Homo sapiens: one gene and its partners. The protein of the gene in region 1 purifies or fractionates together with the protein of each later gene. This does not show direct contact. Each region holds a gene or a part of one and is shown in the gene's direction. Other genes may lie near its edges.

Region 1 (4,216 bases):
GGGTGGGCACACGGCAGGTTATCTCCTCGAGGAACCTCATCTGCTAAGTGGTTCCCTCCTCTCTGTAGCCCAGTGCACACCCCCGCTCCCAGCCAGGGAGATGTGTGGGGCGTAGGTCCTAGGTGCTGAGCCATGGGGGTGCAGCAGGCGGGCGTGTCCTTTAAAGTCCCTGGGTGGGTGAGGGTGGCGGGGAGCGAGGGCGCCTTGTGGCCGCATCTCTGAGCTGCTGAGAAACCGGGTGGAGAATGAAAGGTGGGGCGCGGTCAGGGATCAGCCACGCACCTGCCCTCGGCAGCCGCGGCTGGCAGCTCCTCGGGCGGGCCCTGCCACACGGGCACTCGGAAACCCGAGAACCCTGCGAGCCGGCGCAGTGACCACCTGTCCTCTGTTCCCACAGGCTGCTCCAGTTACAGCACCACCCGGCCGCTGCACCCGGCTGCTCCCAGGCCCCCCAGCCGGCCCCTGCCCCGTTTGTGATCGCCCCCTGTGATGGCCCTGGGGCTGCCCCGCTCCCCAGCACCCTCCTCACGTCGGGGCTCCCGCTGCTGCCGCCCCCACTCCTGCAGACCGGCGCGTCCCCGGTGGCCTCAGCGGCGCAGCTCCTGGACACACACCTGCACATTGGCACCGGCCCCACCGCCCTCCCCGCTGTGCCCCCACCACGCCTGGCCAGGCTGGCCCCAGGTTGTGAGCCCCTGGGGCTGCTGCAGGGGGACTGTGAGATGGAGGACCTGATGCCCTGCTCCCTAGGCACGTTTGTCCTGGTGCAGTGAGGGCAGCCCTGCATCCTGGCACGGACACTGACTCTTACAGCAATAACTTCAGAGGAGGTGAAGACATCTGGCCTCAAAGCCAAGAACTTTCTAGAAGCGAAATAAGCAATACGTTAGGTGTTTTGGCTTTTTAGTTTATTTTTGTTTTATTTTTTTCTTGCACTGAGTGACCTCAACTTTGAGTAGGGACTGGAAACTTTAGGAAGAAAGATAATTGAGGGGCGTGTCTGGGGGCGGGGGCAGGAGGGGAGCGGGGTGGAGGGAACACGTGCAGTGCCGTGGTGTGGGGATCTCGGCCCCTCTCTCTGGGTTCGTCGTGGTTGAGATGATTACCTCGGACGTCTACGGAAACGAGCGGGCGCATTGTTGTCCGCTTGTGTGTGTGTGTGTGTGTGTGTGTGTGCGCGTGCATTGATTACTATCCATTTCTTTAGTCAACGCTCTCCACTTCCTGATTTCTGCTTTAAGGAAAACTGTGAACTTTCTGCTTCATGTATCAGTTTTAAAGCAGCCCAGGCAAAGATCATCTACAGATTCTAGGAATTCTCTCCCCTGAAATCAAAACCTGGAAGACTTTTTTTTCTTATTTTAGTTGAGAAGTTTCATAAACTGCTCAAGGATTAGTTTTCCAGGACTCTGCGGAGGAACGGCAGGAAGAACCTCAGAGAGGGCAGAGGTGACTTCAAAGTGCTGGGGACTCCGTCCTGAGGGTCACTTGGCCCTGAGCCCCTGCGTGCCCTTGCGGAAGCCCAGAAGCTTCTTCCTGCTGCACCTCCCGTTTCCGCTGCTGCTGACGTTTATGCATTTCATGATGGGGTCCAACAAGAACACCTGACTTGGGTGAAGTTGTGCAATATTGGAGGCTGACTGTAGGGCTGGGCAGCTGGGAGACAGGCTCATGGCTCATGGCTCATGGCTCAGGGCGGTGCCTGCCCTGGGCCGGGACCCCCCTCCCCACCCCCCACCTAGGCTTTTTGGGTTTTGTTCAAGGAAGGTAAAGTGAGAGGTTTAGGTCAGTGTTTTTAAGTTTTTGTTTTTTTTTTAAAGCAAATCCTGTATATGTATCTACATGGGAGACAGGTAGACACTACTTATTTGTTACATTTTGTACTATACGTTTGTGTTCCAGGTTTCAGCTTCCCTCGCTCCTGTTGTTAAGAAGCGTCCCTGTCAGCACAGGTGTGCATTGAGGAAGGGGCCCCAGGGCCTTCGCTCCCTCAGCACTGGGGTGGAGGCGGCAGGAAGGGGCGGCCCTTACCTGGCAGGTCTGGGCGCACCTTTAGCAGGTGGACTCCGTGGGGCTCCACCAGCCAGAAGCCTCTGGAAGGCAACGAAGGCAATGCTGCTCCCTGAGTCCAGTCCCCGCCCCCAAACCCAGCCCAGGTGCCTTCAGCTACTTCGGCTTCTTAAACCCTGCAGTGTTAAACAGAGGCATTGAGAAAGGGGAAAGGCGGGTATTTTTAAAAGCCAAAGATTGACCCAGTTACTTGAGGGTAGGGAGGCGGGCCCAGTGCAGGAGGCTGCATCCCTGGCCTGCTGGTGCCCACCGGGGGCTGTGCCTGTGCCGGGCCGCAGGGAAGCTGGCTGCCCCCATTCCTGCTGCTGCTGCTGCTGCTGCTCTGTGGCTGTTTCAAAGACTGGGCGAAAGGCTGTCCGGAGGGCAGACCAGGTGCCTTGCCGCAGAGAAAACACCAAAGTCTCCTGTTCGCTCATAAAGAAGTTTTTGGGATGGGAGAGAATCCAGACCATCTTGGGGCAGCCAGGCCCTTGCCTTCATTTTTACAGAGGTAGCACAACTGATTCCAACACAAAACCCCTTCCCCTTTTTAAAATGATTTCTGTTCTAATGCCATAGATCAAAGGCCTCAGAAACCATTGTGTGTTTCCTCTTTGAAGCAATGACAAGCACTTTACTTTCACGGTGGTTTTTGTTTTTTCTTATTGCTGTGGAACCTCTTTTGGAGGACGTTAAAGGCGTGTTTTACTTGTTTTTTTAAGAGTGTGTGATGTGTGTTTTGTAGATTTCTTGACAGTGCTGTAATACAGACGGCAATGCAATAGCCTATTTAAAGACACTACGTGATCTGATTGAGATGTACATAGTTTTTTTTTTTACCATAACTGAATTATTTTATCTCTTATGTTAACATGAGAAATGTATGCCAAATGATTAGTTGATGTATGTTTTTTAATTTAATATTTAAATAAAATATTTGGAAGGAAAAAACCTTGACTTTTTCCCTTCCTCTCTCTCTCATCTCTCTGGGAGCTCTTTCCTTCCAAGCGGCTTCCCTGAGAGGCCACATCCTCCAGGCTTGTAGAAGTTTCAAATCTTAAAGAGGAGGGCAGGGAGCCAACTCCTGCATTCCACCTCACTGCAGGGAACTAATGGCCTTCCGTCTGCAGAGGACCCCTCCCCCTGCGGCAGCCACAGGTGGCCCCGTGGTCTGCCCCCTCCTCAGGACCCTTCCCCAGTGGCCGGGCTCAGTCACTGAAAGTCTCAGCACCGCCCGGGGCTGCCGGCACCATCCATCCTTACCCCATCCTCCGCCAGGTTCTCTGAGTCTGGTTATAAATTAAGCAGTTGGAAGAATCTCACAGCCAAACCATTTCCTGGTCTCTGAAAGACTTCACCACCTTCTAGCAAGAGGGCACACACTGCTGCTTTATGAGAACAAAGGACTTGTTCATGTTGTCACCTGGTGGATATTTTGGTTAAAAAAAGCTCTTCAACCTCTTCGCTCCCATTAAGGTGGTCCTTACCAAAATGGACCCCTTGTGCGCTGTTGGTGGGAGGGTCAAATGGCGCAGCCTTTATGGGAGAGCAGTGTACCAGCTCCTCAAAGATTAGAACCACCACCTGATCCGGCCGCTCCTCCTAATGGTATGGACCCTGAAGAACTGAAGGCAGGGCCCAGAGAGGTTTGTACACCCATGTTCACAGCAGCATGACGACAGCCATACTAGGAAGCAGCCCGAGGGGCCGTCAGCCGATGAAGGGATCAAGAAGATGTGGTCCCGCCTATAATCCCAGCACTTTGGGAGGCTGAGGTGGGCGGATCACCTGAGGTTGGGAGTTCGAGACCAGCCTGACTAACATGGAGAAACCTCATCTCTACTAAAAATACAAAATTAGCGGGGCATGGTGGTGCATGCTTGTAATCCCAGCTACTCGGGGGGGCTGAGGCAGGAGAATCGTTTGAACCCAGGAGGCGGAGTTTGTGGTGAGCCGAGATTGTGCCATTGCACTCCAGCCTGGGCAACAAGAGCGAAACTCTGTCTCAAAAAAACAAACAAAGAAGATGTAGTCCATGCCGACAGTGGAATAGGCCTCAGCCGTACAAAAGGAAAGCCCAGCATGGCTGCCAGCGAGGATGGACCCTGAGGATGCCGTGCTCAGTGGAACAAGCCCGTCATAAAAGAACACACACTCGAGGGCCCTA
Region 2 (3,257 bases), on another chromosome or scaffold:
GGCTTCTGACTTAGAGCTGATTCTCTACTAATTTTCTTAGGTAAACAGCAGTCCTGTTCAGCAGCCTGCCATGGGATAGTTAATGTGAGCAAAAGAAACTCCATGTGGATCACTGCCGCACCAAGCTTAACTGCTACAAATCTTTACACCCTAAAGTTGAAAATAAAGCAAAACAGACTTTCTGAGTCTGGAATAGCCACGGTATTTTGCCTGAAAAGAGCCACTCTATCCAGCATTGCCTCAGGTTATCAAGTGTTCCCCGACTGACTTTAGCCCTTGCTCCTTTAGTGCTTCAGACAACATCCCGAAGGCAGACGAAATCCGGACCCTGGTCAAGGATATGTGGGACACTCGTATAGCCAAACTCCGAGTGTCTGCTGACAGCTTTGTGAGACAGCAGGAGGCACATGCCAAGGTAGGTGCCGCCTTGCCTGGGTGCTGGTGGCCTTGATGCCGCATAATTTCACATGGCTCCCGTCTGCTGAGGCTATTACAGGCAGGCATTACTAGCTGTGCTTTTCAACAGTTCATTGGTTTCTTATTTTTATTCAGTAGAGTTTACCTTTTTCTCAAAATCAAAAACTCCTTGGCCAACTTGGTCTGTTTTCTTGCTTTAGCTGGATAACTTGACCTTGATGGAGATCAACACCAGCGGGACTTTCCTCACACAAGCGCTCAACCACATGTACAAACTCCGCACGAACCTCCAGCCTCTGGAGAGTACTCAGTCTCAGGACTTCTAGAGAAAGGCCTGGTGCAGGCGGCTTGCTGGGGGATGTGAGCGCTCAGGACGTGATGAGGTACTCGTGGTTCTGGAGCTCTAGAAACACTTCTGATGCATGAAAAATGTGTGATGGTGCAAGGAATGGATTCAGGATGTTGTTGGAGAAACAAGTTTGTGATTAGTCCTTAAAACTTAGCTCCCTGGGACATTCTTCAATTCCACATCTGTTTCTAGAAACCAGCCCTTTTTCCCCCCACTTTTGAGAAATAAAAAAGCCTTAGGTAAATAAGTCATTCTCCCTAGCAGAGCCACTTGGGTCTCCTGCATGGAAGCCATCACACTTGGGCAGGTGTTCAGTGACTGGTAGGTGTAGATACAGCAGGAGTGGCCATGTGGTCCACGGCTTTTTACCCCTTCTTGATCCTGATTTCTTGGGCTGAATTTAGACTCTCTCACAGAGGTGGCTCACAGAGAAGGATGGCAGATGGTGCAGCCAACAATGCTGACCGGTGCTTATCCTCTAAGCCCTGATCCACAATAAAAATGGACCCAACTCAGCTCTGACTCTCTAGGTTTTTGTGCTGCGTAACTACCAAGTAAAAGGACTGAGCCTGTGGCTGAGATGACTCAGTCAACGAAACTGAGGCACACGGCAGTTAAGTGGAAACTGCAGACCAACACCTGGGGTGTCTCCTTCTCTTGGCTACTTCTAGCTCAGGTTTAATGGGTTGCTTATCAAGAGGAGAGTCAGGAAAAAAACGAATCCAATGTATTGAGCATGAGTGACAATGTATTGAGCATGAGTGACAATGCTAGAAGAAAAGTCACTTTCAGTGCTGCTCTTGATGGATTTGGGGAAGGATTCTTTGTTGTAGGTAACAGTGGGCTCAGGGGAAATTATTTTTTTCCTAAGAGAAAATTACTTTATTCGTAGCATTTTGGAAATGTTAGGACCTTTACAGAAATTACATTACCTTGAGAGGTGAAATGATCGTCCAGCATCATGCAATGGATAGAAGGTTCTGTAATCAGCTTTAAAAAAAACTTTAATTTTTGGCCGGGCACATTGGCTTGGCTCATGCATGTAATCCCAGCACTTTGGGAGGCCAAGGCAGGTGGATCACAAGGCCAGGAGATTGAGACTATCCTGGCTAACATGGTGAAACCCCGTCTCTATTAAAAATACAAAAAAAAAAAAATTTGCCAGGTGTGGTGGCACACGCCTATAGTCGCAGCTACTCGGGAGGCTGAGGCAGGAGAATCGCTTGAACCCGAGAGGCGGAGGTTGTAGTGAGCCAAGATTGCACCACTGTACTCCTGCCTGGGCAACGAGAGCAAGACTCTGTCTCAAACAAAAAAAATTTTAACTTTTTTTTTAGACAGGGTCTCGTTCTGTCATCCAGGCTGCAGTAGAGTGGCGTGATTATAGCTCACTGCAGCCTCGAACTCCTGGGTTCACACAGTTCTCCCACCACAGCCTCCCAAAGCACTGGGATTGCAAGCATGAGCCGCCATGCCTGGCCAGCCTATTTTTGGCTGGACACCAGTGGGCCAAAAGCAGTGGGGTGCTGTCTGGGGAGCTCTGAGAATGCGCATGTGTGACAGGCTGAGCCTAAAGACTTATCACCCAGCATCTGCCCTCCAGTGTCTAGCATGCTGCACACTATCACTCCATGTTGCTGCCCACGTGTCCCCGCCAGGCAGGTTTTGGTGGTTATTTGGACACTGAAGGGTCAGACCTGGAAGACTGGGACCAAAAGATGAGGTCTCCATAATTTAAGGTGCTGTTCAGACTTGGTTCAGCTCATAGGACTTGTTCTTTCATCTCAGCCTTCCTTGGAATCCTCCTGCTTTCATCTGGGGATCTTTTAGAATGAAACCACTTGTTATTGTGGAGGGCAAGGGGTCCTAATGCCCTCCTCTTAGAGCCTGAGCCAGTGGAGGCAGCTCCGTCTGCGGAGATGTATAGTTATTGAGCTTTTCTTTGTTTGGCTTTGTTTTATATCATAAAAAAGATTTTCCTCTTAACATAATTTAGGAAGATTTTATTTTTTGGATGTTGTCAGAAATTACAGCAATATATTCATAAATACCTAATTACTACATTCAACAAATAATATTACAATACAATTAATTCAAACAAGTACACTTAGAACAGGTTTAATTTCACAGCATCTAAACTGCCCCCAGAGTGACCGAGGCACCGGTGTTCCTCCCTCCCACCTGCGTATGGGGTTTACTGTTATAGAATTAAGCACAGGGTACATACAAAATAACACCAGTTAGCATGGTCTTCCTCAGGTCAAGGCAGAGTTAAGGAGTTTTTTAGGTTAAGCACTGGATGGAAAAGTTGGGGACAGGCTACTGCAAGTAGTAAGAAAGTCAACAGCTTGGTTACTTGAAAGAATATAGAGATTGCTAAGTGGCTAATATACACTTTAAAGAGGAACAGAATCGGTTTGTGCTGACCATCTCCATCTTGTGGTGGATCCCTGGCATTTTCTACACTTGTGTGAAACATGTGGCTCAGGGA
Region 3 (5,335 bases), on another chromosome or scaffold:
TGATGGTTTTCTCAAGTACAGCCAGGGTATCATGTAATTATAACATCCATCCCTTCCACTTTAAGATAAACGTTCGGGGCCATTTCTTCAGTAGATGTGATCTCTGCTCTTTACTGATCAACCCCAGTGATTCAGTTCTCCCCTTTTATCATCATCACTCCTACTCCCTCCAATTTCTCTGATACTTATTCACACTAACAGTTAAACTAGGGACTTCAGGATGGATGCTGAGTGCTGGGAATTCTAGGAAGGGCTGGATTCTCTGAGTGCTTGGAATCTATTGAAGGGTCAGGACCAAGTGGAATGAGGGCGGAGGCTGAAGAGGACACATGTCACCCTCTTTTATAGTTTTTGCAACCTTCATCTGGGCGTGGGAAGTTCTAGCTGTACCCACAGGCTTTTGAACCAAAGAAAATTCAGCTGTTAGAGCTGTGTCCTGTGAGTCCTCTGAGCATCCTCTTCTTGACCCCTCCCCTCCACCTTCATGCTCCAAGCATTGACCAGACTGTACTCTCTTTTCAGAGGTCTGAGCATCAATTTGGCAGAGAACGCCTCACCTCCGACTCATATCTGGGGATAAGTCCTACAAAAGCGCTCCTTTGAGACCTAGGTTCTTTTGTTCCCTTTTGTTTCCTTCCTGTAGTTGTTACTATCTGAGATACCACAGCAATCCCTTAATCTTCTTTGGCTTTCCAACACACGTGTATCTAGTTCCTTTTATTCAATTCCCTTTGTTTGCAATTCCTAGCATGGATTCTGCTTTCAGAGGGATCCCAGTTGGAAATTCAGGCTTAAGGGATTTGGGGGGTCAAATGATGGGAATTTTAGATGCTGTTTTGTGGTGAACATCCCAAGAAAGGAGTTATGTTGACTGATGTGTAATGGAGGGGATTTTTAACAGGGCAATGGAGACTCAAGTGAGGTGGCACTGGCTCAGGTTGACTTTGAACAAAAGTGCACCTGGCATTACCACACTCTTTCCTAGGGTCACAGAAACACTGGAAGCCAAAAGTGATAGAATTGGGGCCATGGCAGGAAAGGACTGTGTTCTTCCAAGGCCAGAAAGGAGATTAGGGTGAAAAGTAAGAGACGTTGAGTCAGGAGACTCTTTGCAGGGCTGGGAAGAGGGGCTCATGGATGAGCTTATCTGGAAGGTTCTGTCTCATTCTTTGTGCTTTTCTTCCTTATAGATGGGTAAACCTGAAGCTGTTAGTGCTTCAAGTCTGTCTCCTAAAACTCACTTCACTCTAGTAGTTAACTTATACCTCAGTAAATTTTTAGGCTTGGCTACAGCAGATAGGATGGGGTGTATAAACAAGATATAAAAATAACTATTACCACTGATCAGGAACCTAGGGCAGAGGGTGGGGGATAAGCTGGCATCTGGGGCTCAGATTTGGGAGAAATCGCTGCCCACCTCTTTACTTCCTTAGGCAGTTCTGGAGTCCACTGCATTTTGAGGGTACCTGAAACTAGGATTGCCTCAGTTAAAAGACCAGTCTGCATAGTCCCTGTGGCTCCCCATGTGGATGGAGCTGAAAGAGTGTTAGGTAGGGGAGCTCTACTGCCTGGCTTTCCATTCAGGTGTGGCCTTAGGTGGGGTAGTTGAGAAATGCCACAGGGACCTTGCCTGAGACGTGTGGCTAATTTTGCTCTTACAGGATGCCTTTAGCCTGACTGCAGAGGGCAAGGCTCCCAGTCCCAGGAGATGGAGTCCCTGACATGAGAGTGCCTGGCATTTCCAGTTCTAGCTCTAGAATGACATGACAGGAGAGCTGAACTCTGGGAAATTCCCTTAGTTTCCCCTTTATGAGAAACCTAGGATCTGTCATCAACCTCATTTCCTTGTGGTTGATTTTGTGCGGATTGGCTCAACACTTATTTCTCAGCGAGCCCGGACAGGTGATACTTGTGCTAATTCTGTGATTTCTTCCTCCGAGCCTCACAGGATCTTCTGGTAGGAGGAGCTGGTTTTCTTTCATGTCATACGTTTCTCATGCCCCACCCAGGAAGCTGGAGCCTCCTTCTCTGCTCATCCAGATAAATGATCCAGGCTCCATTAGAACCCATCACTGACCTTGGAAGCTGCTGGAGCCACGATTCAGTCCCCTGGACTGTAGATAAAGACCCTTTCTTGCCAGGTATAGTCAATAGCTGGAAAACCTCTTCTCCCTCCCTCTGGAGCCTTTCCTCTCATCTGTGCTTTGGGCTTAATGAAGGGAAGGGCCACATCAGGCTGGCTCTGTGCTTTGTCCTATGTGTGGCTGCTTCTTACTGGGGAGTTGCTGGGATCCTGGCAGAGTGGCCCTGGCATGGGACCCTCCCCTGCTCCTAGGCAAAAACAATGCCGATGAAGGGGTGGAGGCTTCAGAGAAGAGGAGTCAGGGCATCAGGTGCCTGTGGGTTATTTAAGGTCAAATTTTATGCCTGGCCTTCGAACTCCTAGGGGAGACACTACCATACTATCTGGATCTCCAGGTGGAGGAAAATTCTACCTGTTCTCCCTTTGCTGATGCTTCCTTCAAGTTTCGTCCCAGATGTGGCTCAGAACTTCTGCCCAGAGCTTCGTGTCAGGCCAGGTTTCCCAGCTCCCTGTCTAGAATGAGGGCCTGTGGAGCTAGTGTCCTGGAAGGTCTTGGAAACATCTCTTGTGGTTCATCTGTTCTATGTCTGCTTTCACAGGTGCTGAGACAACCACACTATGAGAGGCACTCCAGGAGACGCTGATGGTGGAGGAAGGGCCGTCTATCAATCAAGTGAATCAAATGCTGTTGGGATGGGGCTCTGGAGGCTTAGGCCCTCTGCACTCACGCTATCTCCTGTGGAAGCCCCAGCCTTCTCTGCTCCTCTCTGTACACTGCCCTTCCCACCTGGTGCTGCCCACCTACCACTGGGCCCTGGGCTTCTGGAGGGTGGGAGCTATTGCTTAGTCACTGATCCAGCTCCAGTCCCCAGCACCGGGGCCAAGCACAGAGTAGGCACAAAAGAGGGTAGCTGGGCCTTGGCACACAGGTTCTGTGAGACTGCTCATTGCCCTCTGTCTTGATAGTTTGCCCTCTTAAACCAGTGACTTCCCTTGGTAGCCCTTGCCTTCCTCACCAGAGCTCACAACTTCACTAGAAAGAAAGGCTAGGCTGATGGGTGATGTGAGTGCTGTCAGTTTGGGGATGCAAACCCCACACCTTCCTTACAAAATGGCCTGGGTTAGATACTTTTCTCCTGGGTCTAGTAAAGCAGCCTTGATTATAATATTTCTTCATTTTTTTCTCTATCCCAAAATCAGTGTGTAAACCTATTACTGGGACTATTAATGATTTGAATCAGCAAGTGTGGACCCTTCAGGGTCAGAACCTTGTGGCAGTTCCACGAAGTGACAGTGTGACCCCAGGTGAGTGGTCACCCTGTGCCTTCCCCACTGTTTGCACTGCTGTGGCTGGGAAGCTGGCATCAGCCTTTTGTAAAAGTGTGACTTTACAATGGGGCCCACCAGGAGTGGGGAGAATTTCACACCTAATTGGGAAGAGAAGTCAGGGAGAACTTTGGGTTCCACTAAGATGAAGAAGCCAGAGATGGTGGAGGAGCCTCCAAGGGAATAGGAAAGCTGCTGTCAGTCATCTGAAGCCCTGTCTTATGGAAGACTAGTAGCTTGTTCTGCATGACTTCAGGGTGTCCTAAAATGACTAAATGGGTGAATACCACAGAAAGGCAGGTTTCAGCATCACATTGGGAAAAACTTGCAAAAGGGACCAAGCTCTCCAAGAATCAGAGGGGCTGCTTGATGTAGGAGCTCCCCATCTCCATGTGCTCAAGCAGAGGCGTGAGAATCTCAAGAGCATACTCTGTTGTCTGCTTAGCTCTCTGTGTTTGCTCATTTACTAGGGCAGTGATTGGCACATGGTATGAATGAATGAATGAATGAATGAATATGGGGGTTGGCCATTTGGTGGGTCTAGTTGGGATTACACTCTTCAGCTCTCTTCCAGATCCACTTGAGGATACTGCCCTGCTAAATCAAATAATCTTTCTGACTTCAAAAGGAAACTGATACCATCTCTCCTCTTATCTTTACAGTCACTGTTGCTGTTATCACATGCAAGTATCCAGAGGCTCTTGAGCAAGGCAGAGGGGATCCCATTTATTTGGGAATCCAGAATCCAGAAATGTGTTTGTATTGTGAGAAGGTTGGAGAACAGCCCACATTGCAGCTAAAAGTGAGTAGCTAAGAAAAATATTTAAAAAGCCTTTCCTTTTAGAAGTGTTTGGTTGAATACCTAATTTTAGAATTAAAAAAGAAATAGTCTCATCTTCCTAAGCATATTTATTCCCAGCCTCTTTTAAGTTATGTGCATGCAATACACTTTTCTTTTTATTCTGGCTGTCAGTAGTTAAGGTCCTTGTTTTGCTTTTTTTTTTTCCAAGCCAAACTGCATCCAGCTTTATTAAAGATACTTTCCATAAACATTCATGGTATTTCAGGCAGGATATGGGCAGACAATTGTTAAGAGTATGCAGCAAACTTCAAACTCCCTTGTTCAAAGGACTACCAAAAATCAGAAAGCCACTATAAAACTCAATGAAGTCTTCATCTGATGCTCTGAACAGGGAGAGTTTAGAGTGAGAGTTGACATTTCACATTTAGCATGTGGTTTAAACTTTTCACAAGCCAACCCTGACTTTCAGGAAGTGAAATGAAAATGGTAGAATTTATCTGAAGATCCACGATCTAGAAACAGAACCACTGCTCTTTTGACAGGTGCCATCTCAGTGGCATCACTGGAAAGTCCAGAGTGCCTGACATACTGGTAACCAATGATTGAGGGCCAGGTCCCAACAGATGTCTGGCTTAAAGGAGTTAAATCTATGCTGAAAGATGGAAAGGGAGAAGAGGACATAAAAATGAATTTATTTTCCATACCACAAGGCTTTTCTGCCAAGGTGGCCATGTGTGTCAAAGTCAGAGAATCCCTCCTCCTGGGAGCCAAGAGGAACTCTCTCAAAACTAGAAGGGAAAGGTGTTTTCCCCACATCGATCCAGCTTTGGAGACATTCTATTAGTGACATATGCCCCTTCCCCTAAAAACAACAATGAAGTGTTCTGGGTGCTAACAACATAGCTTAAAAAGAAAAGTAAAACAAAATTCTGCATTTTTATAAAACTTGATAAAAAATAGTTTTTCAAACTGTACAGTCACCAGAAGTACACAGTTATCAAAAATGCACACACTACACTTGGCATCTGCAGCACCTTCAGCTTTCTGTGCCTTCCCTGTTTTGGCATCTCTATTTTCTGCAGAGTTATTCCCCTCCTTGCCAGCATCAGCTTTTCCCTTTTTCC
Region 4 (4,567 bases), on another chromosome or scaffold:
CAAAAAGATAATGGAAGCTCTTGGGGTTGAAGAAGCAGCAAGGGTTGTATGTTGTAAATGGAATGATTAGTTTGACCATATAATGAAACAAGCAGTTCAGAAGATCATACTTTGTCATATGTATGCTTTTTTTTTAAAAAAAAAATGCAGACCTGTTAGTTATATTAAAATGCTTTCTTTTCTATAACTGGTTCTCTGCCTTTCTATGCTTGCTTCTAATTTTCACTCATTTTTATCTCCTTCCTCTCATCCTAGTTCCAAATTTTTATTTATTAGAAAATATTTTACTACTAACAAACTTTAAGCATAGCATAAAATCATTTTGCTTCTTAGGGCTTGAAATAAGTGTCTTTTAATGACTTTGTAAAATTTTAAAAGACATGCTTATTCTTAAGATTGAAATAAAGAAAAGAGAGCCTTTATAATAGTTGTCTTTGATTCCAGCCTTCTAGCTTTTTTAAAAAATACATAACTTTAAACGAATTGTTTTTAGAACGATTTAAAATTACTTTTGGAATACTTAGAACTGTGGTTATTGTTCCCAACTGGAACATGTTTTTATGTTCTTCCTCCAAATTAACAGGTATTTATTTTGTTGTCTAAATTAATCTGCATAATTTTTCTTCAGGCTTTTCTTCAGCAAAATGGATCAGCCTTTTGGGTTCTTTGTTTTGTAATTTTATGTTGTTTGGGTGCAGAACCAAAGCTTAAAAACTTTGTATCTAGAGCATATGGCATAATAAACACTTAACAAATATGTGAATGAATGAATGGATTGAATGAATGAACAAACAAAATTGAGGTGAAGCAAAAGCACTGATGTCATAGGGTGTAGGGTCTTCAGATGTAGAGATTTTTGCAGTTGGCCTAGTAAAATGAACTTGAAGATTGACACTGGTTTGCAGACAACTGGGAAATTCTGTTATTTTCAGCAACGTATTAACAACATACTGTAAAAATACAGTTGTAAAGTTCATAGATCCAAAGTTTCATAGTACTTTTTTGATAGAAATCATACATGTTTATGGTAGAAATTTTGTGAAATACAGGGAATGAAGAAGAAAATATGACTTGTTTTTAAGTCTGCCACCTCGAGAAAGGCAGTGTTAGTAGCCATTTGGGATATTTATGCCTACAAATGTCAGCACTTAATTAAAATTGAGGTTATATATTTTCAGTTTTGAATCCTTCGTTGTTGAGAATCCAATTAAATTTTGTTTTCTCTTTAATTTTTAAACTTTACAGGCCCCTTCACAGATGTAGTCACTACAAATCTTAAATTGCGAAATCCATCGGATAGAAAAGTGTGTTTCAAAGTGAAGACTACAGCACCTCGCCGGTACTGTGTGAGGCCCAACAGTGGAATTATTGACCCAGGGTCAACTGTGACTGTTTCAGGTAGCAAATCATGTTCTGAATTTATGTACATTTGAATTTTGACCTTTTATGATTATGTTTTTGTTTAATAAGGTTTCATCTGGAGGGAGGGAAATAATTCTTATATTATTCTGGTTTTGCCTTTAAAGATGTCTTGTTACAGTACTCTGCAAGCTGTTTCAGAAAATTTCTCACTCATCTTCTGTGTAGGGAGTGTGGTCAGTTTATAAGAAATTATTGTCAATTACAAACTTTAGTCTTTATTTCTACAGCTAACCACTACCTTCTCTGCCTTTGTTATTTTATCTTTGAAAAATTATATCATTTTTCTGATGGGTCATTCTCCTTCAGATCATGATCATATTACACATTGCATGCAGCTATAGAAGTGTCATAATTCTTTTGCTTAAAAAGGTGCAATGCCACTTTTTTGCCTACTGTGTCAAATCAGATGAGTCTTTATGCCTTTCATTGTAAATGTCAACAGTGTCCTGTGTGTGAAAACTTTATTTTTATTTTACTACTCTCTTATGTGTTTACTTGTCAAAGAAGTATGCTTGCCATATATGGATTACTTACTCCTGCTGTGGAGTTGATACTGGTACCATATCTAATGCCCCCTATAAACTGTTTCTTTCTTTCTCAGTCCCTCTGACTTCACTAATATAGCTGAGAAATAGGAAATAGGAAGTAAATATGAGAACTTTTATGGTTCCATGTATTTTACTTAGGGGAGAACCTCTCAGGCTGCATTTACTCTTTCTTTACAGCAGTACTTCTCAACTCCCACTATATGCTGTAATAACACAGGGAGCAGGAACACACATGGATTCATCTCTCCCAGATTGGAATCTCTAGGAGCATGACTTAGAAATGTTACATTTAGGCCGGGCGCGGTGGCTTATGCCTGTAATCCCAGCACTTTGGGAGGCCGAGGCGGGTGGATCACGACGTCAGGAGTTCAAGACCAGCCTGGCCAAGATGGTGAAACCCCATCTCTACTAAAAATACAAAAAATTAGTCGGGTGTGGTGGTGGGCGCCTGTAGTCCCAGCTACTTGGGAGGCTGAGGCAGAGAATTGCTTAAAACCAGGAAGTGGAGGTTGCAGTGAGCGGAGACTGCACGAGTAAGACTCCGTCTCAAAACAAACAAACAAAAAAAGTGTACCTTAAAAAAAAAAAAAGCCTGGGTGATCTTGATAAGTAATCCTAAGATATTATAATAATTCTGTATCAGTTTTCAAGTCCACAGCAGAATTGGGTACAGAGAGAGAGAACCCAGGGTAGGCTCATTGAGAGAGTATTTAGAGGTGGAGCCTGACTACAAAGGCCATGAAGGACAGACCATAGAGTTCTTGGTGACACTAAATCTTCCCTCAGCAGGTATAGCCAAAAACCTCAAGAGCTAGGAAAAAGATGTTTTAGTGAGTCTTGCGGTAAGGAGGCCTGGGAGGAGTGCTTTTCATGTTTCTTTGCTAAGTCTAATTCATCAGTTCCTGGGAAAGAGAGATGGGAAATAAAGATGAAGGAATGCATGCACTCTGCATGTTGCTGCTTTCTACTACATCTTTAAGCCTTTAGCACAATTGGAAGAAGAGAGAATTCTTTCTTTTTTGAGACAGTGTCTTGCTTTGTTGCCCAGGTAGGAGAGCAGTGGTGTGATCTCAGGTGACTGCAACTTCCGCCTCCTGGATTCAAGTGATTTTCCTGCCTCAGCCACTTGAGTAGCTAGGATTACGGGCGTGTGCCAACATGCCTGGCTCATTTTTGTATTTTTAGTAGAGGCAGGGTTTCACCATGTTGGCCAGGCTGGTCTCGAACTCCTGACCTCAAGTGATCCATCTACCTTAGCCTCCCCAAATGCTGGGATTACAGGCGTGAGCCACTGCGCCTGGCCAGAAGATATAATTATTTCAATCCACATGGCTAAAAATAGTTTATTGGTACAAACAGTTATATCCCTAGGAATCCATACAACTATGCAGAATGACTTTTTCTTTGAGGGGCCTAGATTGCTGGTTTCTGTGTATTAATATTTCTTGAGAAAACAACGTATCAAAACACTTTCTCCCACAGAAACCTGACTTATTAAAACCTTCAGACAAACTGGTTACTGATTACGCAAACATGCCCTTGGATTGTTCTACTTAATTAGAATTTGGCTTTTCCAGTTTTTAGTGTAGTGTATTTCCATTTACAGTCACTCAAAGCTATGCTTCTTCCAACAACCTTCTCTGGTTAATTCTCTGTACTACATGCTCATTTCTCTTTTTCCCTGTGTCCTTTTGACGCTTTGTTTTTTGAATTTGCTTCAATTTGTGCACATTTTTATATATGTTTTCAAGATCGTCTTTGTCTTGTTATGTGGTCTGCAACCTAAATTAGAGTATAACTCCTATAAACTTAACCATGTTGTAAGTTTTCGTTTTATTCACAAATTTTTGGTTCATAGTGATTAGCTTATAATCATTAACTCAGTGAAGGTTGCTAATGGAATTTTATTTAGCTTAAGCTGTATTCTGAGGCATTTTATCCAGTACATTTCCTGCTGCTGTGTATTTGGCCCCTTGAAAAAGTTGTCTTAACCTTGATAGCAGTTAATGGACTTCTCAGACACACCTTATGAATAAGACTTTATTACATAATTATTTCTTACATTTATTTACCCGTGTTTATCTTTTTGAAAGTGTAGAGATATATCTTAGAAATAATCTAAAGTTAGGGAAATAATTTCTATAATGCCATGTACATATTTTGTGTAACTGTTGATTGATTCTTTGTATAGTCTGTTATATTGGACTCATGTTACATAAATTTAGCATGACTTACAACCACATGGAACCTTAGAAAACTTAAAAGACGAGAAATTATAAATGCTTAAAAATTGCTCACGCCTGTAATCCCAGCACTTTGGGAGGCTGAGACGGGCGGATCTTGAGGTCAGGAGATCGAGACCATCCTGGATAACACGGTGAAACCCCGTCTCTACTAAAAATACAAAAAAATTAGCCGGGCATGGTGGCAGGCGCCTGTAGTCCCAGCTACTCGGGAGGCTGAGGCAGGAGAATGGCGTGAACCTGGGAGGCAGAGCTTGCAGTGAGCCGAGATTGTACCGCTGCACTCCAGCCTGGGCGACAGAGCAAGACTCCGTCTCAAAAAAAAAAAAAAAAAAACTTAAAAATTTTGAATGT
Region 5 (4,567 bases), on another chromosome or scaffold:
AAGTTTCTGTAGTCATTAACAGGTGGTGTTTGTATTTGCACTATATGCTTAACAATGTGTTAAGTACTCTAGGTAATAATGAGATAAAGATAGAACTGTAGCTGGTGAGATGACTAAAAGAATTAGAGAACAGAATATGACAGTATATAAAGTGGCACTAAGTTGAGTGTTAAATTATCAGTTGACTTGAGAAGAGTCTGGTGATGAACTGTCTTTTGTTCTCCTTAGTAAGTCAGGCATCCTGACAGTAAAACCCAGAATGCCCTAGAACTTAGACCAAAGGGGCATTGTGCCTTGTGGTGTTTATTATTCTCAAGTGGGTTAGAGGTGGGACATTGGTGGGTGGAAGGGAGAGTTCAGTGTACAGCTCCCTTGTTTTCCTTGTAAACAGTCTGCTTTGTTAATCCACAGAGAAGCAGTTTTTTTTTTAACCAAACATCTACTTAGTGATTAGGATCAAGGCAAGGGGAACAGCTTGTTTACCTTGGAAAGATTTTTTATTTTATTTAATTTATTTATTTATTTATTTTGAGACGGAGTTTTGTTCTTTCGTCCAGGCTGGAGTGCAGTGGCACAATCTCAGCTCACTGCAACCTCCATCTCCCAAGTTCAAGCAATTCTCCTGCCTCAGCCTCCCGAGTAGCTGGGACTACAGGCGTGTGCCACTGTGCCTGGTTAATTTTTGTATTTTTAGTAGAGACGGGGTTTCGCCATATTGGCCAGCCAGATAGCTTGTGAATATTAGTGGGTTGGTTTTTGTCAATCAACTGAGCACAGTCTTAGGACTTAGGGATTATACACTAGGATAGCAGTTTTCATCTTGCGTTGGCTCTTCTTGGCCTGTTTCTAGTGATGGGATTTGTCGGTTGTCTTTTAAGGATTCATCCTTACAAATACAAGTCTAAGATCTTTACAGATCTAATGCTCAGGGAGTTTTAAAGAAAGTGAAATAGGGGTGGTCAGTGTAGGATAAGATCATTTAGGGAAGTATTTTCAAAATTTGTGTTTCCTTTTTAGTCGTATACAGTTTCTTGAGATATAAACAGAACTGTTTTATATGCTATGAGTGATTAAAGAAAATAAAGTTGTTTGTTGCCTTATTTTGTTTGACTGTCATACAGTTTGTTTAGAGGCAGCACTAAGTCAGGCAGATCTGCGGTCAAATCCTAGTCATAACCACTTCCCAACAAAACCTTATCAATTTATGTGAGTCCTGAGCTTTATTTTTTTCCTCTGGGAGATATAGTGATAAGTACATTGTAGGTGTTTATTAAATGTGAGGATTGTAGGTAATTTATATAAAGCCTCAAAAACTACTGGCACCTAACAGTGTCAAATAAATTCAAGCTGTAGACTAAATAGTTCACTGTCCTTGCTACAAACAACTTACCATGTTAAAGCAATTTGTAAAACCCTCTTTATACTTAAATCACTTTTGTTACTGGTATACTTAGAATGTTTTTAATCATTTTATTCACATTTCGTTGTAGTTTTTAAGTTTTCTTTTTTCTTTTTTTTTTAAGACAGTCTCACTCTGTTGCCCAGGCTGGAGTGCAGTGGTGCAATCTCAGCTCACTGCAACCTCTGCCTGCTGGGTTCAAGCGATTCTCCTGTCTCAACCTCCCAAGTAGCCAGGATTACAGGCATGTGCCAGGCCCAGCTAATTTTTGTATTTTTAGTGGAGACAAGGATTCACCATGTTGGCCAGGATGGTCTCGAACTCCTGACTTCAAGTCATCTGCCCGCCTCGTCCTCCCAAAATGCTGGGATTACAATAGGCGTGAACCACCATGCCCGGCCTTCATTCTTTTTTTACGCTGTTTCCTGGGAAGATAATGACAGTAATTTTACAGCTTTGTAATAAATTATTTTTAAAGTTAATTTTATTGCTTGTTTAATATTAGATAACAGTAGGTTGAGTGGTTTATTTTACATGAATGGAAAAGTCAGAGGCTTTTCTTATTCTTCTATCCCTTCTTCCCAGGTCAATTGTTGGGATGACTATGTATAATCAAGCCACACAGGAAATTGCAAAACCTTCAGAACTTCTAACAAGTGTAAGAGCATACATGACCGTACTCCAGTCAATAGAAAACTATGTGCAGATTGATATTACAAGAGTATTTAATAATGTGCTTCTTCAACAAACACAACATTTAGACAGTCATGGAGAGCCAACCATTACAAGTCTATACACAAATTGGTAAGGAATGCATTTAGAAATTTGTAGTAGCGGAAAATTTGTAATGAAGTACTTAGGAAAATTAATTTTTTTGTGAATAAGTACTTATTCATATTATCAGTCAACTTAAAATTATATGCAGGAATGTATATCATGATACATTCTGAATTAAGCAGTTTCTTCCGGTTATAAGTTTACGTTTCTCCTTAGGTATTTGGAAACTTTGTTACGACAAGTCAGCAATGGCCATATAGCATATTTTCCTGCAATGAAAGCGTTTGTGAACTTACCTACAGAAAATGAATTAACATTCAATGCAGAGGAATATTCTGACATATCAGGTGAATAGTACTATACCACAGTTTAGAGAATGAAGAACACTTAATTCTTTTGCTAGTGTCTTGATTCTTTAGACTTTTGATTCTGTTGTGACTATTTCATTCAATTATATGCGTAACTGCATATTGTATCTTAGAATTACTTTTGCATTTTGTATTCTCTCTTTCACTCTAGAGACTTTTATCAGGATTTTACATTAGTTTTTATAATGAGATGTTGTATTGTGTTAATGTTCATTTTCTTAAAGTATTTGCTCTGTCGGAAGTATAAAATTAAGTATGTTTTCTTTCAGAAATGAGGTCATTATCAGAACTACTAGGCCCATATGGTATGAAGTTTCTAAGTGAAAGCCTTATGTGGCATATTTCATCACAAGTTGCTGAACTTAAGGTAATATAGTCTTTATTAATTTTAGCTTTTAAACATTAATTCCTGAAAAACATTTCAGGGATATGAGCAACAAGCCTACAATGTTAATTATTTTAATCCAACATGAAAGTACTAATATGAAAATGAAAATTAAATAGCTAGCAAGGCCTTTTTATGGCATCTTAGTTTAGTTTTCTCTATTTTGTAGGTGAGAAAATGGAAAGCGAAAATAGGTGAATTGACTTGGTAAAGGGGACAGAACCTCAGAGTCTTTGGCTTGTGGTCAGGCCTTCATAGTATTGAATCATGATGTTTTCTTTGAAATACCAGCTTCAAAATTCCAGCCAAAGTTAACAATTTGTTCACACTTGCGGTTTGAATGTATTTGCTTTCCATAGATTATAATACAAAAATTACTGGGCTTATTGCTTTTTCTTAGGTAATCTTTTAAATTATCTTATGCCCTCTAAGTTGAATGAAAAATGCCTTCAGAATGCTTAATGTTTCAGTAAAGATGTAAAGGAACTGAAGCAACAACATTTTAAATACCTTTTTATTAGCCTTTTAGAAATATCCTACAGCTACGGTGATTTATATTAAACGAATCTGTATATATAATAACTATGTAGTTTTTGAAAGAATTTGAACTTGGGCCACCAAAACTTTTGAACTTACAAGCAGAATAGAGAAATCATGTTTTAAAATAAACATTTTCTTCGTAAAAGCTTTTTGGTGGTTACTTGAGTCTTGATATTTTAGTTTTTGTTTGTTTGTTTTTTTTTTTTTTTTGAGATGGAGTCTCACTGTGTTGCCCAGGCTGCAGTACAGTGGCACAATCTCAACTCACTGCAACTTCCACCTCCGAAGTAGCTGGGACTACAGGCACGCACCACCAAGCCTGGCTTATTTTTGTATTTTTAGTAGAGACGGTGTTTCACCGTGTTGGCCAGGCTGGTCTCGAACTCCTGACCTCAAGAGATCCACCCACCTCGGCCTCCCAAAGTGCTGGGATTACAGGCATGAGCCACCGTGCCTGGCCAATTTTTAGTTTCTTAAGAAAATGATAGACGGTAGTGGTAAGTAGCTTACAGTTCAGATGTAGCACATAGAGTTCTAAATGTGGTTAATCTGATTTACTGAAAATTGAGCAAATATATAGAACAAGTTAATTTCCACAAACTTAATAGTATTTTGCTGAGTGAATAAATAGCAAGAGTCAGTGTGACTAAAAGCTTAGTATAATCAAAGATTTAAGGAGAGGCAATATTACCCATTGGTTAAGAACTCAAGCTTTCAGCCAGGCGTGGTGGCTCATGCCTGTAATCCAGCACTTTGGGAGGCCGAGGTGGGGGATTGCCTGAAGTTAGGAGTTCAAGACCAGCCTGGCCAACATGGTGAAATCCCCCCTCTACTGAAAATACAAAAATTAGCTGGGTGTGGTGGTGGGCACTTGTAATCCCAGCTACTAGGGAGGCTGAGGCAGGAGAATCACTTGAACCCGGGAGGCGGAGGTTGCAGTAAGCTGAGATCACACCACTGCACTCAAGCCTGCATGACAGAGTGAGACTCTGTCTCAAAAAAAAGAAAAAACTCAAGCTTTCAAGTTAGACTTTCCTGAATTTCAGACCTGTCACTTACAAGCTTTGATTTCGGACAAATGTTTAAGCTTGTACTTTG
Region 6 (3,303 bases), on another chromosome or scaffold:
CAGCTGTCTACACCCAGATCTGCAAATACATGTCCTGGATCAATAAAGTCATACGCTCCAACTGATCCAGATGCTACGCTCCAGCTGATCCAGATGTTATGCTCCTGCTGATCCAGATGCCCAGAGGCTCCATCGTCCATCCTCTTCCTCCCCAGTCGGCTGAACTCTCCCCTTGTCTGCACTGTTCAAACCTCTGCCGCCCTCCACACCTCTAAACATCTCCCCTCTCACCTCATTCCCCCACCTATCCCCATTCTCTGCCTGTACTGAAGCTGAAATGCAGGAAGTGGTGGCAAAGGTTTATTCCAGAGAAGCCAGGAAGCCGGTCATCACCCAGCCTCTGAGAGCAGTTACTGGGGTCACCCAACCTGACTTCCTCTGCCACTCCCTGCTGTGTGACTTTGGGCAAGCCAAGTGCCCTCTCTGAACCTCAGTTTCCTCATCTGCAAAATGGGAACAATGACGTGCCTACCTCTTAGACATGTTGTGAGGAGACTATGATATAACATGTGTATGTAAATCTTCATGGTGATTGTCATGTAAGGCTTAACACAGTGGGTGGTGAGTTCTGACTAAAGGTTACCTGTTGTCGTGATCTGACCACGTCCCGGTGAAAGCGTGTGTCCAGGGAAGAAGTGCACAGGGTAGCCCCCAGTCCCAACCTTCCATCCCCAACCCTTAGGGATGATGGAAGAATCATTTTCCTCACCCTAGTTCCAAGTCCCAGGAAACACCTTTTAACCACTTCCTTCTCATCTCCCACTGTTTCCCACTTCTGGTTCCACCCAACACCAGTTCCTCCGAGCTAGGCTGGCCCTGAGTCATTAGCACCTTCTCTGCCTTCATGAGGCCACTGAACTCAAGGGACCTCACCTTGCTTCTATCCCAGCCTCTAAGACCAGAGGGCCGAGGGGGTAGTGAAGATTGGGAAACCCTTGCCACCTCAACTGCCCAGCTTGTGCCAAGAAACCTCCCTCTGACATTTAGGGGAAAATCTTTGGTTTGTCTGTTATTAATTGGCTGTGAGATTTTCGTCCTGAAAACTTGGGAGGAGGAATTGTTTGATTCTCCCTGAAATTGGGGGAGGGAAGGGGAGTTAATACACAGAATCCAGGTAAGGCTAATAGAAGCTTCAGTGTCCGCTGGGTGTGGTGGCTCACGCCTGTAATCCTAGCACTTTGGGAGGCCGAGGAAAGCAGATCATCTGAGGTCAGGTGTTCGAGACCAGTCTGGCCAAAATGGTGAAATCCCATCTCTACTGAAAATACAAAAACTAGCCAGGCATGGTGGCAGGCACCTATAATCCCATCTACTTGGGAGGCTGAGGCAGAAGAATCACTTGAACCCGGGGGGCAGAGGTTGCAGTGAGCCAAGATTGCACCATTGCACTCCATCCAGCCTGGACAAAAGAGCAAAACTCCATCTCAAAAAAAGAAGAAGTTTGAGTGTCTCAGCTTATCCTGAACTTTGAAGCAGTAACATAAGCTAGCTGAATATAGGCACAACAGAAATTTCCCATTAAGCACGGGGTTTTTGTTTGTTTGTTTGTCCTTTCAGTTACCAATTTATGGAGCATCTATTATGTGCCAGGCCCAGTGCTGGGTGCTGGGGACATACGTAGGGGTGATCACAAGGTCCCCCACCCTGCAGAGCCCACAGGAGGTTGATGTACAAGGTCTGAGCACACAGCTCCCTTCCGTGGCCTCTTTCCCATTCTGCCCCCATTAGCACACGCAGGAAATGTCAGACAGGCGTATCAGCTGGGTTTGTCATCCAAAGACCAGAAGCGAGGTCGGTGGAAACTTGAAAACTCGATTCATTATTAAAGGCAACTCACCCGTCCCTTTAGTCACTCCACAATGTTTATCGAGCCACGTCTTATGCCAGGCCTCAAAGATGAATCAGACCAGGCACTACCCTCAAGGAGCTGCTAGTTAGGTCAGGGAGACAGGCCAGTCTTACATTCCTGTCATTCAGGTCTCCACTCAAAAGTCACCTCCTCCGGGAGGCCTTCCTGAATTGCCCAGGCTATAGGAGTCCACTTTTGGTCATCCAGTCCCGATGCTCTGTTTTTTGTTTGTTTGTTTTTTTTTTTAATAGCACCTATTATACCTGAAATTATCTCATTTGTGTTTACTTGATAATGGTCTATGTCACCCTTCCCCACAAATTCCGTGAGGGCAGTGATTCAGATATTTGTTCACTGTGATTTTCTAAGCTCCTGTATTGTGCCCGGCACACAGAAGTCACCCCCGTTGCTGTGTGAACACATAACACAAATAGATCAGTGCTGTAACAGAAGGGGGTATGGGGTGCACCACACCAAGTCCACAGGCTGTGCCTGAAGGAGTCAGGAAAGGCTTCTCAATGAGGGGACATTTGTGCAGGAGTTTAAAGGATAAGTAGGAGTTCACCAGGTAGAGAAGGAAATGCATTTCAATCACTTTGCTGTATGACTTTGAGCAAATTACTTGAATGCTGTCTCTTCCTCAGTTTTCACTCTGTGAAATGGAGACACCTGCTTAATTAGACTCCCGTGAGAGTTAAATGAGATAGGCTGGGCGCAGTGGCTCACTCCTATAATCCCAGAACTTTAGGAGGCTGAGATGGGTGGAATGCTTGAGCTCAGGAGTTTAAGATCAGCCTGAGCAACATAGTGAAACCTCGTCTCTACTAAAAAAAAAAAAAAAAAAAAAAAAAAAATTAGCCTTGCATGGTGGTGCACACCTTGTAGTCCTAGCTACTCAGGAGGCTGAGGCAGGAGGAATACTTGAGTCCAGGAGGTTGAGGCTGCAATGAACTATGATCATGCCGCTGCACTCCAGCCTTGGCAACAGAGACCCTGTGTCAAAAAACAAAAAACAACAACAACAAAAGGATAATTAAATGAGATAATATACATGCAAAGTTCACCTAACACCAGGCACTGAGAACACAGTCAATAAAGGTAGCTATTAAAATGCTCATTTTTTTTTTATTTTTCTTTTGAGAGTCTTGCTCTGTTGCCCAGGCTGGAGTGCAGTGGCACGATCTAGGCTCACTGCAACCTCTGCCTCCCGGGTTCAAGCAATTCTCCTGCCTCAGCCTCCCGAGTAGCTGGGATTACAGGCCGCCCGCCACCATGCCTGGCTAATTTTTGTGTTTTTAATAGAGTCAGAGTTTCACCATGTTGGCCAGGCTGGTCTTGAACTCCTGACCTCAAGTGATCCACCCACCTCGGTCCCCCAAAGTGCTGAGATTACAGGCGTGAGCCACCGCGCTTGGTCTAAAATGCTCTTAATAGCAGTTAAGGTGGCACTTAGC
Region 7 (4,567 bases), on another chromosome or scaffold:
GTGCAATGGTGTGATCTTGGCTCACTGCAGCCTCCCCTGCCCCGCCCCGGATTCAAGTGATTCTTGTGCCTCAGCCTCCCGAGTAGGTGGGATTACAGGTGCGGGCCACCACACCCAGCTAATTTTGTGTTTTTAGTAGAGATGGGGTTTCACCATGTTGGTCAGGCTGGTCTCGAACTCCTGACCTCATGTGATGCACCCACCTTGGCCTCCCAAAGTGCTGGGATTACAGGTGTGAGTCACTGTGCCCGGTCTATTCCCATTTTTCTTTCTTTTTTTTTTTTTTGAGACCAAGTCTCACTCTGTGGCCCAGGCTGGAGTGCAGTGGCACGATCTCTGCTCACTGCAATCTTCGCCTCCCAGGCTCAAGCGATTCTCCCAAGTCCCAGACTCCTAAGCAGCCATTACACCTGGCTAATTTTTTGTATTTTTAGTAGAGACGGGGTTTCGCCATGTTGGCCAGGCTGGTCTCAAACTCCTGGCCTCAAGTGATCTGCCCGCTTCGGCCTCCCAAAGTGCTGGAATTACAGGCGTGAGCCACCGTGCCTGGCCTTTTTTTCCATAATTAAAAAAACTTTTTTGAAAATAGTGACAGACTCTTGCTGTGTTGCCCAGGCTGGTCTTAAACTCCTGGCCTCAAGTGATCCTCCTGCCTTGGCCTCCCGAAGTGCTGGGATTATAGGCATGAGCTACCATGCCCAGCCCCATTTTTCAAATGAGAAAACAAAAGTCAGGCAAGGTTAAGCAATTTCTCCCAGGCCTTACAAACATTTCATAGTATCAGAGGTGGCATCTGAACCGAGACAGCCTGGCTGCAGAGTCCAAGTTCTTTCCCATGGTGTGATCTGAGCTATGATCATGCTGCATATCTCAGGGATGCTTCTCTACTCAACAAACATCTACTGAGCATCTGCTGGGCCAGGCACTGTGCTGGGCTCTGGGGACATAGCAGTGAAAAGGACAGAGATGACATTCTGATGGCAGAGACAGACAAACACATTATAAAGTAAGGTCCTTTTGGGCTGGTCACGGTGGCTCAAGCCTGTAATCCCAGCACTTGGGGAGGCCGAGGCCGGTGGATCACCTGAGGTCGGGAGTTCGAGATCAGCCTGACCAACATGGAGAAACCCCGTCTCTACTAAAACTACAAAAAATTAGCCGGGTGTCGTGACGTGTGCCTGTAATCCCAGCTACTCAGGAGGCTGAGGTAGGAAAATCGCTTGAACCTGGGAGGCAGAGGTTGCAGTGAACCAACATTGCACCATTGCACTCCAGCCTGGGAAACAGAGGGACACTCCATCTCAAAAAAAAAGTGAGGTCTTGAGGTCTTTTTGGACTAAGTGTTAGGAGTTAATACAACCACAATAGAGAGTGATTTTAATGACGGTAACACAAGGGACTCACTGTGCCAAGCAGTATTTTTATTTTTTATTTTTATTTGTTTATTTTTTGAGACGGGGTTTTGCTCTTGTTGCCCAGGCTGGAGTGCAATGGTGTGATCTCGGCTCACTGCAACCTCTGCCTCCCGGGTTCAAGTGATTCTCCTGCCTCAGCCTCCGGAGTAGCTGGGATTACAGGCATGCACCACCACGCCTGGCTAATTTTTTGTATTTTTAGTAGAGTCGGGATTTCTCCATGTTGGTCAGGCTGGTCTTGAACTCCCAACCTCAGGTGATTTGCCGCCTCGGCCTCCCAAAGTGTTGGGATTACAGGTGTGAGCCACTGCGCCCGACATTCTTTATAATTTTTAACTCATTTCATCCTTATGTCCTCCCATCAGAGTGCATACTGTTATTTAGCCCATTTTATGACAAAGAAAGTGGCTGGCACACGCTTTCTTGAGTCTTCTGCTTTGGGGGTATCAAAACCTATAACTGGGCCAGAGGCAATGATCAGGCACAGAGAGGGTGAGTAACTTGCCCGCAGTCACACAGGTGGCGGAGTGTTGCTGGCAGAGGGAACAGCAAGTGCAAAGATAGGTGTAGTCACCAGAGACAGTGGGTATGAGGTTGTTTGAGGCTGAGTTATCCAGACATGAGTGGGTCCCCAGCAGGGGCAGCAGAGACAGCGGGGCAGGTGTGCTGGCTGGATAGACTGCTGCGTGTTTGTGTTCTAGGAGGCCAACGGTCCTGCTGATGGCTACGCAGCCATTGCCCAGGCTGACAGGCTGACCCAGGAGCCTGAGAGCATCCGCAAGTGGCGAGAGGAGCAGAGGAAACGGCTGCAAGAGCTGGGTGAGGGCGGGGCTGAGGCGGGGTTGGCTGGGTGGGCTGTGTGTGGGGTGGAGTGTGGGGAGTCCTCGGAGTGCATGGGATGCTGCATGCCTTAATGTGGGACTGGGCCGGTGCGGCCCTGTGGCTGCCTGGCAGGGGCCAGGGGAGGAGCGCGGCCGGGCCTGTGCATCCCAGCTGGAAAGCAGCCACTCATTCTCTTGTGGGGTCCTAGATGCTGCATCTAAGGTCACGGAACAGGAATGGCGGGAGAAGGCCAAGAAGGACCTGGAGGAGTGGAACCAGCGCCAGAGTGAACAAGTAGAGAAGAACAAGATCAACAACCGGTGAGAGGGCTGTAGGGACATGAGGGGGCCATGGGGACATGAGGGGGGCTGTGGGGACATGAGGGGGCCGTGGGGACATGAGGGGGCCATGGGGACATGAAGGGGTGGGGACATGAGGGAGCTGTGGGGACATGAGGGGGCCGTGGGGACATGAGACGGGCTGTGGGGACATGAGGGAGCTGTGGGGACATGAGAGGGGCTGTGGGGACATGAGAGGGAGCTGTGGGGACATGAGAGGGAGCTGTGGGGACATGAGAGGGGCTGTGGGGACATGAGAGGGGCTATGGGGACATGAGAGGGGCTGTGGGGACATGACTGAACACTGCCCAGTGCTCCCTGCCTTTGAGGCTCTGTCCTTCACGGTACAAGGTCTTCCAGGAAGGGAAAGGCCTGTTCTGGGAAGCTACCCTTCTGTCTAGGGAACTGCTGCATGCCAGGCTCTGGGGTAGGCACGGAGGAGATGGAGATAAGGAGGACCCAGCCTTATGTCCTCAAAGGGCGCAGAGGAGAAAAACACACATGTTCAACTAAGCTCAAATACAGTAGGGCCCTCTGCACGAAGGCCATGGAAGCAAGGAAACAGGTCAGGGAGAGACCTCTGTGTCTTGGGACTTGGGCTTTGGAAGATGACTAGGAGGAAAAAAGGGAAAAAAGGGCAGGAGGTAGGGGGGCATTCTAGACCTGGGTACGAAGAAAAAAATGTGATGTATTAGGCAACAGGGGGCCAGGGAGCGGTGGGAGAGAAGGCAGGAACCTGTGGACTCACACTGTAAGGGCCTTGGCTGATGAGTTGGGCAGTGACATGGGCAGTGGGGAGCCACTGAAGGTGTTTGAACAGGAGTAACATGATCAGGGATGAATTTTAGAGAAGGTGCTGGGGCCAGGGTGAAGGTCCCCATTCTCCTGTTTGGGGCTGTGGGTCGTTGCTGAGCCTTCCAGAACTATGCTTCCTAACATTTCTCCCACTGGAGGTACTAATGCTGTCTCTCTCTCTCTCTCTAACCTTCTGCCTGCCTGTCTGTCTTGCCATCTGCCTTCCCCCACCTAACCCCTTCCCTCAACCTTTCCCTCAAGGATCGCTGACAAAGCATTCTACCAGCAGCCAGATGCTGATATCATCGGCTACGTGTACGTGTCTGTTTTGCTTCTCTGTTGGGGGAGCTAGAGAGGGAATGGCCACCACAGTTTCTTGAGTTTCCTGCTTGTGGGATATAAATGAGTGTGGCTGGGCTCGGAGCAATGGTCAGAACAGGAGGCAAATGCCCTGGTGGGTGCAGGCAGCAACCACCTCCCTCCCTCCAGTGAAGTGGAGGCTGCTTGGCTAAATCAGAGCCTTGCAGGATAAAGGCAGAGAAAGGAATGTGCTTGCCACTTATTCCCATGTGGGAGGGGCAAATGGCAGAGCACCCCAACTCCCTCCCTCTGTGATGTCTCTTGGTGGGTGTGTGGGGTGAAGGGTTTTTTGTTTTTTGAGATGGAGTTTCGCTCTTGCTGCTCAGGATGGAGTGCAGTGCTGCGATCTCGGCTCACTGCGACCTCCACCTCCTGGGTTCAAGCGATTCTCCTGCCTCAGCCTCCCGAGTAGCTGAGATTATAGGCACATGCAACCGTGCCCGGCTAACTTTTGTATTTTTAGTAGAGACGGGGTTTCACCATGTCGGCCAGGCTGGTCTCGAACTCCTGACCTCAGGTGATCCACCCACCTCGGCCTCCCAAAGTGCTGGGATTACAGGCATGAGCCACCACACCCAGCTGAAGGGGTCTTTTATTCAACAAAACAGACACTGAGCATGGGATGCTGGAGGCATGTAAAGGACAAGAGCTGCTCCTTTGTGACATCCATCTCTTCCTCCTGCCCCAGTGCACTGACTTTGGCCATCAGCCCCTGCCCAGACCACCACAGGCCCCCTCACATGTTTCAGGTTTGGGGTCTACTTGGTGTGATGAGTAATCAAGACCAGGGTTGGCAAACAGGTTATATCTCGTGCCGACGTCAGTTAGTTGGTAGAG

Evidence for each region.
Region 2: the proteins of SIK1 (region 1) and GINS2 purify together in Homo sapiens (affinity purification with mass spectrometry, with the first as the bait; 2 studies listed by BioGRID). This does not show direct contact.
Region 3: the proteins of SIK1 (region 1) and IL36G purify together in Homo sapiens (affinity purification with mass spectrometry, with the first as the bait; one large-scale study listed by BioGRID). This does not show direct contact.
Region 4: the proteins of SIK1 (region 1) and VAPA purify together in Homo sapiens (affinity purification with mass spectrometry, with the first as the bait; one large-scale study listed by BioGRID). This does not show direct contact.
Region 5: the proteins of SIK1 (region 1) and NCKAP1 purify together in Homo sapiens (affinity purification with mass spectrometry, with the first as the bait; one large-scale study listed by BioGRID). This does not show direct contact.
Region 6: the proteins of SIK1 (region 1) and KLK10 purify together in Homo sapiens (affinity purification with mass spectrometry, with the first as the bait; one large-scale study listed by BioGRID). This does not show direct contact.
Region 7: the proteins of SIK1 (region 1) and CLTB purify together in Homo sapiens (affinity purification with mass spectrometry, with the first as the bait; one large-scale study listed by BioGRID). This does not show direct contact.

The regions. Positions count from the first base shown.
Region 1 is NC_000021.9:43,413,299-43,417,514, reverse strand, and holds the end of SIK1 (serine/threonine-protein kinase SIK1), read left to right. Parts: intron 1-397; coding exon 398-773; 3' UTR 774-3,032; downstream 3,033-4,216. UniProt on the Homo sapiens protein: Serine/threonine-protein kinase involved in various processes such as cell cycle regulation, gluconeogenesis and lipogenesis regulation, muscle growth and differentiation and tumor suppression. Phosphorylates HDAC4, HDAC5, PPME1, SREBF1, CRTC1/TORC1.
Region 2 is NC_000016.10:85,675,698-85,678,954, reverse strand, and holds the end of GINS2 (DNA replication complex GINS protein PSF2), read left to right. Parts: intron 1-288; coding exon 289-415; intron 416-617; coding exon 618-743; 3' UTR 744-2,757; downstream 2,758-3,257. UniProt on the Homo sapiens protein: Required for correct functioning of the GINS complex, a complex that plays an essential role in the initiation of DNA replication, and progression of DNA replication forks.
Region 3 is NC_000002.12:112,975,938-112,981,272, forward strand, and holds the start of IL36G (interleukin-36 gamma), read left to right. Parts: upstream 1-2,068; 5' UTR 2,069-2,141; intron 2,142-2,682; 5' UTR 2,683-2,701; coding exon 2,702-2,756; intron 2,757-3,283; coding exon 3,284-3,388; intron 3,389-4,071; coding exon 4,072-4,211; intron 4,212-5,029; exon of another isoform or gene 5,030-5,335. UniProt on the Homo sapiens protein: Cytokine that binds to and signals through the IL1RL2/IL-36R receptor which in turn activates NF-kappa-B and MAPK signaling pathways in target cells.
Region 4 is NC_000018.10:9,930,565-9,935,131, forward strand, and holds part of VAPA (vesicle-associated membrane protein-associated protein A), read left to right. Parts: intron 1-1,245; coding exon 1,246-1,398; intron 1,399-4,567. UniProt on the Homo sapiens protein: Endoplasmic reticulum (ER)-anchored protein that mediates the formation of contact sites between the ER and endosomes via interaction with FFAT motif-containing proteins such as STARD3 or WDR44.
Region 5 is NC_000002.12:182,950,749-182,955,315, reverse strand, and holds part of NCKAP1 (nck-associated protein 1), read left to right. Parts: intron 1-1,984; coding exon 1,985-2,203; intron 2,204-2,392; coding exon 2,393-2,523; intron 2,524-2,813; coding exon 2,814-2,911; intron 2,912-4,567. UniProt on the Homo sapiens protein: Part of the WAVE complex that regulates lamellipodia formation. The WAVE complex regulates actin filament reorganization via its interaction with the Arp2/3 complex. Actin remodeling activity is regulated by RAC1.
Region 6 is NC_000019.10:51,011,562-51,014,864, reverse strand, and holds the end of KLK10 (kallikrein-10 preproprotein), read left to right. Parts: coding exon 1-65; 3' UTR 66-2,126; downstream 2,127-3,303. UniProt on the Homo sapiens protein: Has a tumor-suppressor role for NES1 in breast and prostate cancer.
Region 7 is NC_000005.10:176,395,597-176,400,163, reverse strand, and holds part of CLTB (clathrin light chain B), read left to right. Parts: intron 1-2,116; coding exon 2,117-2,234; intron 2,235-2,445; coding exon 2,446-2,557; intron 2,558-3,631; coding exon 3,632-3,685; intron 3,686-4,567. UniProt on the Homo sapiens protein: Clathrin is the major protein of the polyhedral coat of coated pits and vesicles.